2 separate regions of the Homo sapiens genome follow, and region 2 is linked to region 1. The links come from fine-mapping of genetic effects on gene expression. Tissue or cell type: whole blood. Region 1 holds a variant in brackets; the other region holds the start of a gene. All regions are shown on one strand. Distances are from middle to middle. Region 1 holds the start of DVL3 (dishevelled segment polarity protein 3). Region 2 holds the start of ABCF3 (ATP binding cassette subfamily F member 3).

The links. PIP is the estimated chance that this variant, and not a neighbour inherited with it, causes the effect.
Region 2: ABCF3 starts here. The variant in region 1 is the best candidate, but not a certain one, in a credible set for the expression of ABCF3 in whole blood (INTERVAL, PIP 0.82).

What each region holds. Positions count from the first base shown.
Region 1 is chr3:184,152,115-184,161,475 of GRCh38, reverse strand. DVL3 (dishevelled segment polarity protein 3) reads right to left here and starts at 6,099. Exons shown (of 15, transcript NM_004423.4): 1 at 5,680-6,099. The coding sequence starts at 5,840. RefSeq lists enhancers at 79-579, 3,762-4,637, 4,638-5,515 and a silencer at 5,853-6,202. The variant G/A (reference allele first, on the strand shown) is at 3,845.
Region 2 is chr3:184,180,769-184,190,129 of GRCh38, reverse strand. It overlaps ABCF3 (ATP binding cassette subfamily F member 3), which reads right to left and starts at 3,931. Exons shown (of 21, transcript NM_018358.3): 1 at 3,850-3,931; 2 at 3,476-3,623; 3 at 3,255-3,334; 4 at 2,687-2,733; 5 at 2,369-2,466; 6 at 2,147-2,269; 7 at 1,723-1,989; 8 at 1,289-1,369; 9 at 1,142-1,201; 10 at 986-1,042; 11 at 853-875; 12 at 687-742; 13 at 373-573; 14 at 199-275. The coding sequence starts at 3,922. AP2M1 (adaptor related protein complex 2 subunit mu 1) reads right to left here. Exons shown (of 12, transcript NM_004068.4): 6 at 9,146-9,281; 7 at 8,904-9,045; 8 at 8,315-8,434; 9 at 8,083-8,218; 10 at 7,882-7,979; 11 at 7,262-7,373; 12 at 6,039-6,648. The coding sequence ends at 6,514. RefSeq lists enhancers at 3,627-3,946, 4,424-5,138, 6,432-6,946.

The DNA.
Region 1 (9,361 bases):
AGGAGGTTGGGAAGTTCAGTCCCCACTTGTTCTTTGGTTTTTTTTTTTTGAGACGGAGTCTCGCTCTGTCACCCAGGCTGGAGTCCAGTGGTGCAATCTCAGCCCACTGCAACCTGCGCCTCCCGGGTTCAAGTGATTCTCCTGCCTCAGCCTGCCGAGTAGCTGGGATTACAGGTGCCTGCCACCACGCCTGGCTAATTTTTATATTTTTAGTAGAGATAGGGTTTCACCGTGTTGGCCAGGGTGGTCTTGAACTCCTGACCTCAGGTGACCCGCCCACCTCGGCCTCCCCAAATGCTGGGATTACAGGCGTGAGCCGCCGTGCCTGGCCCCCCTTGTTCTTAGAGCAGCTTCTGCCCAGAGCTGGGAATGTGCTTGGCTCCCTTGTGATGCTCACATTTTTGGACTCACAGCCAAGTTCACAGGCCAAGCCTGCCCTCCCCACTCCCATCCAGCTCTGGCTCCTCTATCATTCCCAGAGCCACAGCGACCCTCGGAAAGCAGCCCAAATCATCCTACTGCGGCCCACCATGGCAGAAAGTGTAGAAAGGACAGGCTAGAAAGAAGGGACACAGAGGTAGCTCAGACCCACCAGCCACTCTGGCCACAGGGTACTCCAGGTTGGCAGCCCCACAGGGCTCAAAGGAAAAGGGAATATGTGGGCCACATGGCACAGCCTGCTTTGGATAGGGTCTGCCTGTCTGGGGGAAATTGCTGCTGAGTCCCTACCTCCCTGCTCCCCTGGCAGGCCCCACCACACTGCTCCACACTACACGTTTCCTCTCTTTCTGGGGGTCATCGACAGGCCACCAAGGCTCTGCTGACTCAAAACAATCAGCTGATCTTCAGCAGCTTTGGGGAACCTCAGACAGGTCTTACTCTCCCACCATGGAGCTGAATGGCTGGGGTTTACATAGCACTTACACACACACACACACACTCATACCCCAAATGGAGTCAAACAAATAATGACTCAAATTCCAATTCTACCACTTACTGGCCCTCTTATCTTAGAGAAGTTTCTTAATTTCTCCAAGCCTTTGTCTCATCCTGGTAAAAGGGATCCTTAAATGCCTGGCATGATCCAGGCATACAGTAAAAGCTAATTATATTGTCCATTTTTAGCAGGATCCATACACTATTTCTAACTACGTATACATTATTAAGGGCAAAGCAAATAAACCTGTTCATCATTCATTGTTCATCCAATTAAAATGCTTTGACTGGCAGGGCACGGTGGCTCAGGCCTGTAATCCCAGCACTTTGGGAGGCCAAGGTGAGCGGATCATGAGTCAGGAGATCAAGACCATCCTGGCTAATACGGTGAAACCCCGTCTCTACTAAAAATACCAAAAAAAAAAAAAAAAAATTAGCAGGGCGTGGTGGCGGGCACCTGTAGTCCCAGCTACTCGGGAGGCTGAGGGAGGAGAATGGCGTGAACCCAGGAGGCGGAGCTTGCAGTGAACCAAGATCGTGCCACTGCACTCCAGCCTGGGCGACACAGCGAGACTCCCTCTCAAAAAACATACAATAAAATAAAAATAAAAAATAAAAAAATAAAAATAAAATAAAATAAAATGCTTTGGCTGAGGGCCCAGTGGGTTTCAGGTCCTGAGCTTGCTATTGTAGGTTTTCTCATGAAACATCAGACCCAGAGCCTGCCTTGTTCTCAGAGAGACTATGGTCCAGTGGATAGTTCATGGAAATATACTGCAATCCAGGAAGTGGTTGGAGCCGTAGGAGCAGCACATGTGTTCAATGGATAGACATCTGCTGAGTGTTACACAGGTGTCAGGATATAAAGATAAAATATACCAGGCACGGTGGCTCACACCTGTAATCCCAGCACTTTGGGAGGCCAAGGTGGGCGGATCACTTGAGGTCAAGAGTTCGTGACTAGCTTGGCTAACGTAGCAAAACCCCATCTCTATTTAAAATACAAAAATTAGCCAGGTGTGGTGGCACACACCAGTAGTCCCAGCTATTTGTGAGGCTGAAGCAGGAGAATCGTTTGAACCCGGGAGGCAGAGGTTGCAGTGAGCCAAGGTCGCACCACTGTACCCCAGCCTGGGTGACAAAGCCAGGCTCCATCTCAAAAAAAAAAAAAAAGGATAAAATAAGAGAGTGCCATGACAGTTCTCACAGAAAAGCTCAACCCAGAAGACAGGAGAATTTGAACCTGGAGGAGACAGGGGAAGAAGAGTCTGCAGGTGGAAGGCCCAGAGGGAGGACAGTGGAGCAGGAAGCCACACAGCTAATGACCTGATCGCCATGCTGCCCTCTCTCACAGCTCAAGGCCAGACTAGCAGTAGGCACCTTACTTCTATGAACCATCCACCATGCCCTCAATGCTGAAAATGTTTATCCTTCCTCCATTTCTCAAATAACTTAAGATGGCAGGCCAGGCGCGGTGGCTCATCACCTGTAATCCCAGCACTTGGGGAGGCCGAGGTGGGTGGATTGCTTGAGGTCAGGAGTTCCAGACCAGCCTGGCCAACGTGGTGAAACCCCATCTCTACCAAAAATACTAAAATTAGCCAGGCATGGTGGCTCATGCCTGTAATCCCAGCTACTTGGGAGGCTGAGGCAGGAGAATCACCTGAACCCGGGAGGCGAAGGTTGCAGTGAGCCGAGATTGCGCCACTGCACTCCAGCCTGGGTGACGAGAGCAAAACTCCTCAAAAAAAAAAAAAAAAGAAAAAAAATTTAAAAAGATGGCTGGGCCTACCCTGAGCTTGACAAATACTTTTGTAGACCAGATGGGACTTGAGGAGCCTCACAACTAGCACCTCAAAGGCTGAGCCAGGAGTGGAGAAACTGGAGAGACAGCAGCCTTCCTCCTCTGACCCACTTTCCTTCCTCTAGGGTCACTGACCTCCGCCTGACCTTCCTCTTGTGGGGCTCGGAGAAATGGTGGCCTTGTCACCTCTACAGTTTTCCAAGGCTTACCACCTCCCTCGGAGAGGATTCATCAGTAAAATGGTGATAATAATGACACCTAAAATTGTGCGATTAAGGATTTAGATTTTTGGATCCAGATTCCTGATGTCAAAGCAAGCTCTGCTCTGCCTCTTATTAGCTGTGTGACCTTAGGCAAGTTACTTAAGCTTTCTGTGCTCTAGTTTCCTTTTTTTTTTTTTTCTGAAACACGGTCCCACTCTATTTTCCAGGCTGGAGTACAGTGGCACCATCACAGCTCACTGCAGCCCCAAACTCCTATGCTCAAGTGATCCTCCTGTCTCAGCCTCCCAAGTTGGGACTACAGGCACAAAGCATCATGCCTGGCTAATTAAAAAATTTTTTTGTAGAGATGGGGTCTTGCTATGTTGCCAAGGCTGGTCTCAGATTCCTGGCCTCAAGCAATCCTCCCACCTCAGCCTCCCAAATTGCTGAGATTACAGGTGTGAGCCACCATGCCTGACAGAGTTTCATTTGTAAACTAGAGATACTATTACGCTATCTATTTCATAAGGCTGTTTCGAAGATTAAATGAGTGAAGATTTGAAAAGCATTTAGATTAGTCCCTGGCACACTAAGCATAAAAGGCGTGTGTTAAATAAATGAAACATATATATATGCTCTTCAGCTATTAGTCCTCTGTGACAAGACAGCTCTATCAGTTCCCCTGCTCATTTATCCTTCTGGGGATACAAACAGAATCCATCTCCTCCACTTCATTTTTAATACTGTTTTCAACCCTGCTAAAATGGTCCAACTCTGATTTTGGTTCAAGTACCACTGATGTTTGCAAGATGGCTTCAGGTGGCACACAGATTAACATTGCTTAGTTCAATCATTAAATATTTATGTTAAACATATTTTAGAAAGAAATATAAACAGAAAA[G/A]TCAGACCTATGGTTTCATATTATTGCTTGGTTCAAGCTAAGAAAAACAGTAAGTGGACTGACAATGGATTTAAAGAAAAATATTAAGTAACAGTGACTGGATGTAATGGGGGCCCTCTTAAAACTGCAGTTAGGCCTTGGGATTGGGAGAGCAGCCCAGAGTTGTCCAGGCTTAGGAGGCAGGGGCCAGGTCCAGTGGGTCTGGAGATAAGTACAGGGTGGAGAGACAGCCTATCTTAGTCCCTCAAGGCATCTGGATCTGAGGTGGCCCCAGGGCACTGGACTCTGGCTCATCTTCCCCCATTCCTTATGTGGAGGCAGTAGCTTGATCCCTTCTAACCCTATTCTTCTCTTGCCAGGCCAAAGTATCCACCCCCTCACCCAGACCCCTTCTAGATCCATCCCTCCTCAGAATCTTCCAATTAGAGGTGTCTGTCTCTGGGCTGAAGGCAGACAATCATTATCACACCAGGAGCACCCCACCCCAGGGCAGGAACAACAACAGAAACAAGAATAGTTAGAATCTACAAAGCACTGCCCACTGTACAAAGCACTCTCACACACATGATTTCAGGGGCTCATCCAACCCTGAGTTCCAGGGCAGAAGGTGACAGCAAAACATGCCAGGCATTAGACAGAAGGTGCTTGCTTCCTAGTGCTAGGTGGGCCAGGGGCTTGGGAGAGAAGCCAGACAGATGAACACTGGGGAGAAGAATGTCTCCTCTTGGCTGTGGGGCCTCAGCTCCAAAGAGCAGTGCAGGCCTCAGGCTAGGGCTGGAGAGGCAGCCTTCAGGCCTGGAGGGGCCTTCCCCACCGCCTCCAGGCCCAGCGCCCAGTTAGTGAGGCGGCAGGCAAGTGTGGGCGCCTCCCCCTCCCCCAGTCTCCTGGGAGTTGGGGGGGTTCGAGGGGGATCAGCCAGGCCCCCCTCTTCCCAGGCCAGCTGCTTCAGAACCTTCCGGCTCCAACATTCCATCCCCTCTTAAAGGGAAAGTGACTGCTTCCAAACTGTGCCTGTCCAGATCTCTGCAGCTGGGTGGAAGGGAAGACCCCACCAGGGAGGGGAAGATAGAGAACACCAAGAAACTCTTCCTGGCTATCCCACCCAGGCCCCAGGCCCTTCCTAACGTCTCTCCACTGGCCACCAACTGGAGGAAAAAAGCCCGAATTGGAGGAAAGATCAGCACCTGGGTCAGTGAGGACTACTCCGCAGGGGTCAGGCTCTCTGTTCCGGTGACAACACCCACAACAGCCCACAAAGGAGAGGGCAGGCAGCTAGATAAACATCAGATCTGCAGACCCCGCTCGCGGCCAGGCGCCCGAGCACCCCCGACACCCCTCCCCCAGCTCAAAGTCCCAGCAGAGCCCTCAGATGCAGCATACTCCAAATATGGCTGGGAGCTGTGCTGCTGAAAAGATGAAGGGGGCGAAGAACGAGGGCCACACGACCCAAGTCTGTGCGGAAAAAGGTGGCTCTGGCTCCTCGGCAGGAGGAGGATGGGGGACTCGGGCTCTGAAACTAGGTGGAGGGGGGGTGTGTCTGTCTCTGTGGGCCACTGGTCTCTGAAGAGGTAAGGGGACCGCACCGGCAGGAACTCTGATTGCTAGTGGGGAATTGGACGTCCCCTTAAACAAGGGAGGCCAACGTCCCCTCTTCAGAGGTAAACGGGAGTTGCTACTGGGGCTGGAACCAAAGGGGCCCAAATGGGCCGAGTCGCCCCTAGAAGTCAGAGCGGGGCTAGGAGCCGGTGTAGCGAGGCAAGTCGAAACGGACCGCGTCATCCCTTAGAAGCCAGAGCGGCCGGGGCTCCCGGAGGCGGGGCGGGGGCCATCCTCACCCGAAATCGTCGTCCATAGACTTGAAGAAGAACTTATAGCTGGGTCGCTGCAAAACGCCCTTAAAGTCCGCCAAGGTGACGCGCTCGGCGGGCAGGGGCAGCTTCACAAGGTACGGCGTCTCCTGCCCATCCAAGTGGTAGATGATCTTGGTCTCGCCCATGGCTCTGGCCTCGGGCCCGGCGGCCCGCGCGCGGCCTGCTCGGGCGGCCGGGCCGAGCCTCCCAGACGGCGGCGGCGCGCGGCGCGGCCCAGCGGCTCAACCCAGCTCGGCGGCTGCTGGCGGCGCCAGCTCCCTTGTTCTCCGGCCGCTACCGGGTCCCAGCGCCGCCCGCCGCCGCCGCGGCCGCCGCTTCCGCTCCCCACTCTCCCGACTGGACTGGCGACCGCGACTCTTCCGGTGGCCGCGGCCCTCCCGGCCCAGGGCTTCGTCCGGGCCCGCTCCCCTCCTCCGGCCCGGCGCGGCCCCGCCCCGGCGCGCCCCGCCCCCGGCCGCCGCGGAGAGGCGCCGGCGTCGCGGCAGATGGCAGGGTTTCCCGCCCACTGGCCGGGCCGCGGCGCTCCGGTCCCGGGTCCCTAGAAACGGAAGGGGAGATTCACCGGGATGGCGGCGTTCCCGGACCCCTGAAGGCCCTGACTCCGGACCCAAGTGGGATCGGCGACTCCTCTGCAGTCCAGGAAGAGTGGAATGCAGGGATTGCTTTGGTCCCCAGAAATGGTCTGGGGAAAGAGGGTGGGTCTGACTCTGGATCCCTGGAGGAGAATGACCTCAACATGGCCCTTCAGTGTTTCTTGAGAAGCACAACTGCTGTCACTGAGTCTACTAAACTGATCTCGAGAGAAGGACAGCATCCAGTTCTGATTCCTCCCTATAACCTTAGCGTCCAGTTGCAAGGTAGTGGTTTAATAAATGGGTTGAATGCGGAATAAGTGGGGCCCGGGCGCGGTGGCTCACGCTTCTAATCCCAGCACTTTGGGAGGCCAAGGCGGGCGGATCGCCCGAGGTCGAGAGTTCAAGACCAGCCTGACCAACATGGAGAAACCCTGTCTCTACTAAAAATACAAAAAAATTAGCCGGGCGTGGTGGCGCATGCATGTAATCTCAGCTACTCGGGAGGCTGAGGCAGAAGAATCGCTTGAACACGGGCGGCGGAGGTTGCGGTGAGCCGAGATCGGTGAGTCGAGATCCTGCCTTTGCACTCCAGCCTGGGCAACAAAAGTGAAACTCCATCCCCCCTCGCCCCCCCCCAAAAAAAAAGATAAGTGGATGCATGCATGCCTAAGACAGTAAGTCTCAAACCAGAACTCCAGAACTAGGTATAGCCGGTTCCTCACAGATCTCCTCACCCCTTAACTTTTAATTCATTTAATAAATACTGAAGGCCTACTGTGTATAAGGCATATCGCATGAGATATAGCGATAGCGAGACAGACAAGGCTGCTCTCAGGACCTTCCCTCAGCTGGAGGGAAGCACATAGGCTTGTAAATACATAACTTCAGAGTGACCACTGCTATGAAGAAGGTAAAACAAAGTGATGGGATAGTGACAGGGGAAGCCAGGCGCAATGGCTCATGCCTGTAATTCCAACATTTTGGGAGGCTGAGGCAGGTGGATCACCTGAGGTTAGGAGTTCGAGACCAGCCTGGCCAAAATGGTGAAACCCCGTCTCTAGTAAAAATACAAAAATTAGCTGGACATGGTGGCGCATGCCTGTAGTCCCAGCTACTCGGGAGGCTGAGGCAGGAGAATCGCTTGAACCCGGGAGGTGGAGCTTGCAGTGAGCCGAGATCCCACCACTGCACTCCAGCCTGGGCGACAGAGCGAGACTCCGCCTCAAACAAAAACAAAAACAAAACAACCAAAACAAAACGAGAAAGAGGTTTCTGATTGGTTAGAGAAAACTTCTTCCAGAAAAAAAGACCTAGAAATAGCAAGGATGAAGTGGCTATGAGAAGATCTGGGGTGACAGCCTTCTAGGCAGAGGGCACAGCCAATATACAGGCTCAAGGCAGGAATAAACATGTTACATTTGAGGAATAAGAAGGCCATCATGACTAAAGGAACAGTCCTAGGTGAGGCTGGAAACATAGACCCGCCAGATTACATAGGGCCTTGGATGCTATGGTCTTAAGTATGGGCTCCTTCTACTCCATTTTATACACTGTTGCCAAATTAACACTAGAATAACAACATCATTCAGATACCTCTTCTACTCAGAAACCTTTCCACATTCCCCAAAGCCCCCAAATATCCCTATTCAAGGCCCCCCATAATCTAACCTCTACCTACTTTTACAGCCTTTTGTCTCATATCCTGGCCAAATTTTTGACTCCAGGAAAATGAACCCACTTGCTAGCCCCTGCACACACCTTATGTATATCGTCACTTCATACCCTTTCCTTCACCTTCTTTACATTTTTTATCAAAGTAATATGTTTGGAAGTCAAATAGTATTTAAACAGCTTTTTTTTTTTTTTTTTTTTTTTTTTTTTGAGATGGAGTCTCACTCTGTCGCCCAGGGTGGAGTGCAGTGGCACAATCTCGGCTCACTGCAAGCTCCGCCTCTTGAGTTCACGCCAGCCTCCCGAGCAGCTGGGACCACAGGCGCCCGCCAAATTTTTTGTGTTTTTTTTAGTAGAGACGGGGTTTCACTGTGTTAAACAGGATGGTCTTGATCTGAACTCGTGATCCACCTGCCTCGGCCTCCCAAAGTGCTGGGACTACAGGCGCAAGCCACCACGCCCGGCTTTTTTTTTTTTTTTTTTTTTTTTTTTTTTTTTTTGAGATGGAGTGTTGCTCTGTCGCCCAGGCTGGAGTGCAGTGGCACGATCTTGGCTCACTGTGAACTCCGCCTCCCGGGTTCATGCCATTCTCCTGCCTCAGCCTCCCGAGTAGCTGGGACTACAGGTGCCTGCCACCACACCTGGCTAATTTTTTACATTTGTAGTAGAGATGGGGTTTCACCGTGTTAGCCAGGATGGTCTCGATCTCCTGATCTCGTGATCTGCCTGCCTCGGCCTCCCAAAGTGCTGGGATTACAGGTGTGAGCCACCGTGCCTGGCCCTTAAAAAGCTTTTTAACAAAACAGCAGTCCTCCTTATTGGTATAGTGGTGAGAAAAACAAAACAAAAAACCCGAGCAATTCTTTGTCCTATTTCCCTACCACTCTTAGTACTTTTTTTTAGCTCATAATACTTGTTCTTGATTTATACATTTTAGACATTGCTTATTGATTTCCAAATTTGATTGATGATTCTCTGTCTTCCACCTTACCCTTCCCTCTTAAAATAGTGAAAGCACACTTTTTGGCTAAGTCAATATAGTACTTAGTAGTGACCTTATTTTGACTATGAGCAAATGTTCACCGCTAAGTCATGTGGAGTTTTTTTTGTTTTGTTTTTGTTTTTGTTTTTGATGGAGTCTCACTCTGTCGCCAGGCTGGAGTGCAGTGATGTGATCTCAGCTCATTGCAACCTCCACCTCCCGGGTTCAAGCGATAATTCTGCCTCAGCCTCCGAGTAGCTGGGATTACAGGCATGTGCCACCATACCTGCCCAACTCATTTTTGTATTTTTAGTAGAGACAGGGTTTTACCATGTTGGCCAGGATGGTCTCAATCTCTTGACCTCGTGATCCACCTGCCTTGGCCTCCCAAAGTGCTGTGATTACAGGCATGAGCCAC
Region 2 (9,361 bases), 29 kb before region 1:
AATTAGTGGTTGCCATGTGCTAGTCAAGATTAGCCCTCCAAGAACAGTGTGGAATACTCTGCTTCCCAGCAGAGGAGGAAGTCACAGTTGGCTTCTAGCGAAGGGGAGACCTAGAATGGTAGGGCAAGGGTGGCGTGCAAATGCGGAAGGAGACGAAGAGAACAGGAGTCAGGCCCTGGCCAAGGATGCTGTACTCACAGCTTCTCCAGCATCTTGAGTTTACTCTGCACTTGAGAGGCCCTGTTGGCATTGTAGCGAAACCGGTCAATGAAAACCTGCAGGTGGAGGAGTGTAGGCATTGGTCAAATTCCCCCACTATCCCCCACTCTGGAACCCCTGGGATGGGACCCCCAGCCCTGCCAGGCCCCACACCTGGATGTGCTGGCGATACTGCTGCTGCGCCTCATATTCACGCTGCTGGTTGAGCAGCCGCTCCTGCTTACTCTTGATGAAGGTCTCAAAGTCTCCCCGGTAACCATCTAGCCGCTGGCTGTGCAGGTGGATGATGTCTGTGGCGATGGCATTCAAGAAGTTGCGGTCGTGGGAGACGACTAGGATGGTGGAGGGCCACGTCTGAGGGGTCACAGGACAGCAGGCCCGGTTTGGGAGGGCAGTCAGTTCTCAGGCCCCCAGGTATCTTGGAGGCCGCCTTTCCCCAACACACTCCAGCACCCACAGGCACTCACCTGCAGGTAATTCTCCAGCCACAGGATGGCCCTGACATCCAGCATGTTTGTAGGTTCTGGAGAAGCAGGGGAGCACACACTTGGGATTGAAGGGCTGGAGAACTAGGAACTTGGATGCTACCACCCCTGCCCATCCTAAAGTCAGGGTGCCCCATTTCAAACTCACCATCTAACAGCAGAAGATCTGGCCTATGAAAAACAATACATGGCCTGAGGTTTTAGGTCAGCAACTCATGCCACCTCCCAAGAGCTAAGACCAATCTTCCATAGGGCTTCATACACTGGCCCAGGAGACTCACCTAGCAAAGAGGGCCCGGGCCAGGGCCAGCCTCATCCTCCAGCCACCTGAGAACTCCCTAAAGAATGATGGAGTCACATTATGGGTGGGTGTTCATCAGGGCAGGAAGGGGCTGAGACAACAGGGTTCAAAGCCAAGAATGGCAAGGGTCACTCACCGGGTGGGCTGCTGCTGCATTTTAGGGGTAAAGCCAAGCCCAGCGAGAATGACTGATGCCCTAGTAGAGAAGAAATCGAAGAACTCAGTTGGAACAGTCCACAGAAGGGAAAGGAAATCTGAAGGAGGGAGGGGGAGCTTTAAATACCTGGCAGGTGCCTTGTCAGCCTCAATCTCCTCCAGTTTGGCATAGATTTCTGCCAGCTCTGCAGCTTCAGAGCCCTCCGCCCTGGAGGGAGGAGAAACAGCAATTGGCCTAAGCAGGGGCAGTCTAGGAGGATGTCCTGCACCCTATACCGTTGGAAAGGCCATTGGCTACCTTGTGGCTGGAAGAGGAAGAGAATACAGGAAGGGTTTGCACAGTGCTCATTACCTTGGGCACTATGGAAATGGGCACTGTGGAAAGAACAAGAAAGGGCAATGGGCACTGTGGAAAGAACAAGGGCTTCTGAGTCCCAGAGTGCCAAGTTCTAAGCTCTGCTGATTACTAGGATGTACATGCAAATTATGGATTGTTCCAGGACGGCAGGCGCTCTGTAAGCGACAGCGGCTGCTAGTTACTCCCTAGCCGGGAGTCCTCACCTGCCAGCAGCAATCTGGGCAGTGAGCTCCCGCTCCCTCCGTAGCAAATCCTCTCGCACACTGTCACTCTCCAGCACACTCTGCAGGGCAGGAGTGTCATCTCCAGCAACCTCTTGCTCAACGTGCAGCAGGGAAATGTGGGCTGGAACCCGCAGACTCCGGGTGGCCAGCATCTTCAGTAACGTTGTCTTCCCCAACCCATTCCGCCCCACCAGCCCGTAACGGCGGCCCCATGCCAGGTTCACATCCGCTCCAGCCAGCAGTACTCTGCAGGAGTGGAGAAAGGAGACCAAAGATGCTCTAGAAATAGGTGCACAGCAAGTTTAATGACAAACCTAACATTGTTTATAGCCCCGTTTCACCTCTCCAAATTGTCCTCTAATTAGAAAAAGAAAGCCAACCCCTGCCACCACTATTCCCTCACCTATCGCCAAAAGACACATCAAAGTTCTCAATTCGCACATCATAGGATTTGTTCTTGCCAGATGATTCCAACCGACTCTCCTTTCTGCTGCCTGCCTGGCTGGCTGATGCCTCTTCTAAGACTCTTTAAAGGGAGAAATGGACAGCTCTTAGTGCTCCCCACCACCTTCTGTCCAGGCAAAAGCTGCTCTGCTCTCTTCTGAGCCATGCTTCCCCCACTCACAGAGGGTTGCTGGTCTTGAGCGTGTCCTTCTCTGAGCGCTTCTCCTGCTTTGCCTTAAGTCGAGCCTCGGCCTTCTCTAACTTCTTTGCATTCACTGTCTAAGGGTCCAAACACATCGACTTCACTCTCGGGTGTAGGCTCAGAAAGGAACCCCAAGAGAGAACATCTCGAGTAAACCCTCTTAACTTACCCATGATGAACAGACTCAAAGGCTCAGGAAAAGACATAGTCAGAAATCCCCCCAAAAGATACTCCAATTAGACAGTCAACTCCCAACCCCATCACAGACAGTCCCCTCCCTTGCTTCCTCCTCCTCACCGAGGACTGTTCCCTCTTTAGCAGTCCTGGAAGTTTGGTTCCACAGTCTGTAAGCGATAAGAAAAGCAGTCACCTTCTCCCTGAGGGAAGGGAAACTAACATTTTGAGTGACTAATAGGAACCAGGCACAGACACAGATGTTTTCTACAAAACCTTATAATACTGCAGATAGATGGCTATTATCTTCCCTGCACTAAAAACAAAACAAAACAAAACAAAACAAAACTCACGTAGAAGGATACAGAGGCATAGACAAGGCTGGGGACAGATAACCAACTCTTACAAGATCATGCAGCTGGTTAGCAAGTTGCAAAACTGGGGGTGAAAGCAAGTCTGTCCAGCTCCAGGCTCTTATGCTTCCTATCCTACCCAAGAGCTTGGAGGGAGAACCCTCCAACCTCCTCCCCACCCCCATCATGGGCTCTTCTGCCCTCGGTAAAGACATCAACTAGCTCCTACAACCTTGTCCTGTGGAAAAGACGTAGGAGCCCTAAGCTGCAGGCAGCAGATGGTTGGGGGCGGAGAAAAGCACAGGGGGGCAGTTAGTTCAACCTCCCCTCACTCTCACCGTAGTTCTCCGTTATCTTTGACAACTGGATAGGGGCGTCCAGTAGCACCTGGCTATTTCCCTGGCTTTGTGGCTCAGCCCTATGTGGGTAGGGATAGAAAGCGCAGAGTTAGGAGTTGAGGGAAAAGCTCTATGGCCATCAGATCTTCCTCCCCCACCTCTTGTCTCCGGACCGTTCGCCGTCCCTTCGCCCCCATCAACCCCTACTCCCTGGCACATACAGACGCAGAGTGTTGTACATGCGCTGGCACACGGCCCTGATGCCCGCGTCATCCTTGCTGTCCCCGGACACCTCTTGCAATAGTTCCCCTACAGCTTCCACCAGGTCATCCACAGACTCGAAGTCCGCGCTGCCGCTGTGCAAGACGCCTGGGCAGGGCGTGGTAGAACGAGGAAGGTATCGGGTAGGGTGGACACACAAGCAGTTTCAGACCCCAGACAGAGGCCCCAGTCCAGGCTCCAGACCCAACCAGCCCCCGGGACAAGAGGTCATGCAGAGGAGAGGCCTGGCAACAGTCCCGGGCACGACGCTCGCTTAGACTTTCCCCCGGCCTCCACTTCGGTCTCCCCAGCCGGCCGATTCAGTTCTGCTTACCGGTCACGTAGTCGAAGACTTGTCCGTCAATTTCGGGGAACTCGCTCCGCAGGATTTCGGCGCAAGTCGCCATGTTCCACTCAGGAACCCGTCCGCGCAGTCGCTGTGAGACCCCGGCCTAGGCCCGCCCCCCGCCCTGCCCCCGAAATCTCGCCCTTCCTTGCAAGGCGCATGTGTAGCGGTGACGCAGGAAAGGAGCGGAGTGCGCAGAGCCCGGTGGGCGGGGCGAGCGGGGCCTTGAGGAGAGGCGCCGAGTCTGCGCCGGAGCCGCGCTCTCTGCGCGTGCGCGACACCTTTTCCGCTGAAAGATTAGCCACATGTGCGGTTCTCGCTGCCTTCTGGGAGGTGGAGTTCCGGGAGCGAGGGGTGGGGCAAAGGCTGGGAGCTCAAGGTTTATCGGGGCCGCGAGGCACCCGTGGTCTGGCGGGTGGGAGCCTCCCAAGAGGCAGGCGGCTGATAAAGCACTTTGGCTTTGCCAGGTTTTATGCGCTCCCTCGAGGCGCGTCTGCTGCTGGTGCGTACCCAGTCAGGCCCATTTTGGAGCCTGCCCAGAGCTTTGCTGACTCACCCCGGTCCCTGACTCTCAGAAGCCCCCTGCTCAGTGCTTTGCTTTCGCGGGTCCCCAGACCCTACGGGCTTCTCAGCCTGGTGGCCAGCGCCACCCGCCTCCCCGCCGCGACCGCCTTTTCACTGTGTAATTCAGCCGACCTTTGTGAATTAAGCCCATTCAGTTCTTCCACCACCCCAGGGCACGACCAAATCCACCGCCAAAGGGCAAGAAAACCAGGACAACGTGGCCTGTATAAATTATTCCCTACCTACACCCTGAGCAGACTTCTCTGCACTCAATAAATGCCAATAAAAGGCTATTTCCTTTCACCGATTCCCTCGGGAAGTTAGGAATTTCCTCCAAAATGATGCTACTGCTTTATATTTAACGTGAATATTCCTCCAATTGGTCTCTAAAAGTGGCACCGAAAATTACATTATTACCCATTCATCCCTTTGGATTAAACATTGCCATCATGAGGCATCAATCCCGATATTGAACCATTTTACAGGAAATACAGGTAAAGAGGAATATGTTAAGTGACTTCATGGGGACAACAGGCAAATTCTGATGTGGTAAACTACAGAACTCTGGTTTCTTCCACAAAATTGCAAGACCTGAAGGGAAACATCAATTTTTAAAATTTGAGGAGCATTAACCAACCACAATGGACCTTATCTGGAAAAATTTGATAAGACACCTGGTTAAGTGAACACAAACTGGATGTGATATTAAGGAACTGGCCACGCATTGATCATAGTTGAAGCTGGGTGATGAGACATGGAGATTCATTATATTCTTTTTTTTTTTTTTTTTAATTTGAGAAGGAGTTTCGCTCTTGTTGCCCAGGCTGGAGTACAGTGGCGTGATCTTGGCTCACCGCAGCCTCCACCTCCTGGGTTCGAGCGATTCTCCTGCCTCAGCCCCCGAATAGCTGGGATTACCGGCATGCACCACCACGCCCGGCTAATTTTGTAATTTTAGTAGAGACGAGGTTTCCCCATGTTGGTCAGGCTGGTCTCGAATTCCGGACCTCGGGTGATCCACCCGTCTCGGCCTCCCAGAGTGCTGGGATTACAGTGTGAGCCACCGCGCCCAGTCCATTATGTTATTCTCCTTGCAAATCTTTCCTCCTACCACCCAGTCAGCAAGATTTGGGAAGCTTGGGTAAATGATGGAATTAAAAGGTCAATTTCTTAGGATGGCTACAAGACCAAATGTAAACTTCACACTTAATTTATGCTTAATCTAATTAGAAAACATCTGCCTAAGAATTAGAGAAAGAGCTGGGTGCTGTGGTGGTGCGTGCTTGTGATCCCAGCTACTCCAGAGGCTGGGGCAGGTAAGATCTCTTGAGCCTAGGAGTCCGAGGACCAGGGGGAATAAAAAGGAGCTAGGGAAAGAATCTATCCCCAGGGTACTGGGGCCCGCTGCGGCTGCATGCCCTTGAGGCTTTCTAAGAGGAGCCAGGAAACCTGGGCCCAGAACCCACAAGGATAAGGGCTTGGATGGCCCAGGAGGGGCCTAACTGGGACAAGACAAGGAAAGAGCCTTTAGAGTATTCAGTACAGAAAACTGCACGGAGAGCAACACCAGTTCCCTCCCCATGTAGCTCCCACATCAACACTAAGCCAGCAACTCCACTCTACAGAGTTTATTGGGTTTGTAACTGGACGAAGTCACACGTGTACAAAATGAAGCTCACACTATCCCAAAGCAGAGTAGGGACTGAGGCCGGGGATCCATTACTGGCCTTTGGGGGAGCTCTGAGGTGAGGGGCAACCAACCCTCCCACTCCAGAGCTGTGGCCACAGGGGTGGGAAGGAAAGGGAACCCACCTGGCTTTGGTCACAGAACTCAGAGCCTGGCATTAGGCCAGGACAGACAGGTGGATGGGAGAGCAGGAGCCTCAGAACTCCCCTGCCCAGGGAGCCCAGGGGCTGCTCCACCGGTCCCACTTGTAATGTGCTTGGCCCAGACCTAGACTCGGGCTGGTGCAAAGGGAAGGCAGCAAAGCAGGAGGGAGGAGACACTGATGTGTGGTGGGGGAGGGAGCGGCACCTGGACCTGTGGAGGAGGGTGGCTGGGGAGGTGGGCTAGCTGCCTAGTGGCAGCTAGCAGCGAGTTTCATAAATGCCACTGCGGCCAATGTAGCGCACCCATTTGATGACATCATGGTCGCTGTAGTTCAGCTTCGGTTCAAACACCTTCAAGTAGCGCACCTTGAGGCCAGAGGGCGCGAATGGCACCTGGGCAAGGAGAGCTAGTTAGAAATGTGGCCTTCCTCTTACAGCCGCTCTCCTCTGGGAAGTCCCGTTGCCCTGCCCTACTTCATCGCTACTACAGGTGTTTGTATGGCTGGGGTCCTGAAAGAAGCTGGGGCGGCGTGGGACCTTCTAAGAGGTGACTAAAGAAGAAAGCCCTACCTGTGACACCTTGAATCAGTTCCTTTAATCAGCAGGAGACAGCAACCAAAGAACTGCTTTAGAACATACTTATCCTGCTCAATATTATGAACTTAAAAATAAGGTGGAGAAAATTATGTCTAACATGCGCAAAGCAAAGTCAGCCCATTATCCTGTCTGTAAGTAAACTTTGTGTCTTACCTGGCATTTAAACAATCTAAGTTTTTTGAAAGAACTGTGTTAGGACAAGCCGAGAGAAGTAAAAGATTTGCCTCATCACAAATAGTAATTTCTACTAAGAGGCTTGAAAGGGGAAGAATGGATCTATGAATTAAAGCCAGTTCTTCTTTCTAGGCCTCAGTTTCCTCACCTCTAAGGTGCAGCAGTTTATCGGAATGATCTCTAAGAGGTCTTCCAGCATACCCTGGCATGACTCTAGGCCCCTCCTCTGCCATACCTCAAAGTTCATGGAAATGGGGGGTCGAGCCCATTTCTTCTTGTCGTTGGTAGGCAGAAGCTCAATCTCTGCGCTGATCTGCGATTCCTTCATGCCTGCCATGCGCTTGATCCTGGGAACACAGGGACAATGGGCAGCCCATTGGGGCTTGGAGGAGTTTCAAGGGCAGTTGCCCATTTCAAGCAAGGAGAGAGCCCAGGAGCTTGCAGGAGGTGCCAGAACAAGGAGAAGTGGTCAGGACCCTGCTAACCACTTGCTATGGAAACTTGGGTCTACTTCTTTAGAACAACAGGATGCAGTTTCTGCCTAGACACTTGGACATGCTATCGTTTGCTTTGTCTGCTTCACAGATACATTACAAAGGCAATGTATTCCCTTTGTAATGTATACATTACAAAGGGAAATGCCAAAGCATCTTAAAAAATAAGCACGTGCATGAACCCAAATGCAGGCGTGTACATACTCACATGGAGGTATAAAGACTGACAGTACAAGCAGAGGCTCCTAGAAAAGCAAACAGGCACACTCCCCTGCCCCTCATTCAGAAGGATCAAAGCTGAAAACAAGAGGGTATACTGGGATCTTGAGCCCTGCTGTGGCCTAATGAAGGAAAGACTCACTTCCACACGATGGCATTCTCGCTGGCCTTGTACTTGGCCTTCCCCTTCATGCAGATCACCTGCACCCCGCTTGTGTTCAGTGGGGTTGGGATCCTCACCTAGAAGTGACACACCTGTCAGGGAGCTCTGTCAAGCTGTGACATCAGCTACCTTTATTCCTAGGGACAAGTTCTTCCTCCTCCTTGAGCCCCCTGTCCTCACCTCGATCTTCTGAGCCAGCAGTGAGGGTTTAAAGTTGGACTTGATGACCACCTTGACCTCCAGTTTGGTGCGTCCCACTTCTCGCACTAGCGGGATCACCCGGAAGGGAAGGATGATGTCCTTGGTTGTGCGATACCTTAAGGGATGGGAAGCAAGGTTACCAAAGAGCTGACCCACTTCCTCTCCCCAGTCTGCCAGCAGCACTAGCTGCCTCCTCACACCCCAATGGCACCTCATAAGCTCAAACTCTCCATCTGGCGGGATAAAGCTGATGCTGCGTTCAGAGTCAAACTTGCTGAGTCGCACACACTGGTGGAAGGTGCAGTCATCAATGGCAATTGATTGCTTCCCGCTGCAAGCAGGGGCAGAAGAGGTCTCATTGGTACAGGAGAATGACAGCTGTCATGCTGGGAGACCACTCCACCCCAGGCTGGCACCAGAGACTATGAAAAGCTGCTAGAATGCAGCTTTGTGACTCGGAGGTCTGCCCCAGAGCTTGGGATGAGAGGGAAGCCTTGCAAGCTCATCTCTTGGGGCTCCTTCTGCTAGGGACCTGGGTGTTTCAGGCACACTGGGCAGAGGCTGTCAGTATGTACAGAAAAGGCCTTGGTCCTAGGGACCAAACAAAGGGGCTTGCTCTCTGAGGACGATCCCCTCATCTCTCGTAGCACTAATGTCAAGAGCGAACAGCCAGGCTTACCGTCAGGAACAGAGTTTGCAATTACAGTGGGAATGAAATCCAGAAGAAACTTGTGGTTCACTAGACCCCACTGAGCCCTCCAAGGGACACCCTCTCCCACCAGCTCTCCTGCCTCAGGCACCTCTTGCTTGTTTCATCAGCTGTGCCTTTGCCCTGCTTTTCAATAACAATCTTGTCATTCATCCCAAACTTGCATTCAGGCATGCCACTCAGGTAGCTCTTCATCACCACCCGGCCCGACACATGGGCACTCAGCACCTGCCCTGGTGATGGAACAGATAAATGGGGAGCAGCGGAGTCAGGCAGGCAGGCCCAGGATCCTGCCCTGGGCCCCCTCCAACTTTGTCGTGAGAGGGACCTCACCTTGTGGGGACATGAGCAGGTTCACACTCTCCAGCACATCCAGGAAGAGCTCATTCCGACGATACTTGATACCCTCTCGCCGCCAGCCAATCTGCCCAGTTACCTGGCTGGTGATCTGTGACTGCTCTTCTTTTGTCTACATGAGGGCAGAAACAAACAGCAATGGCCTCACTCCTCTGTCCCTTTAATCATCCTGTCTCTATCCCCACTCCACCC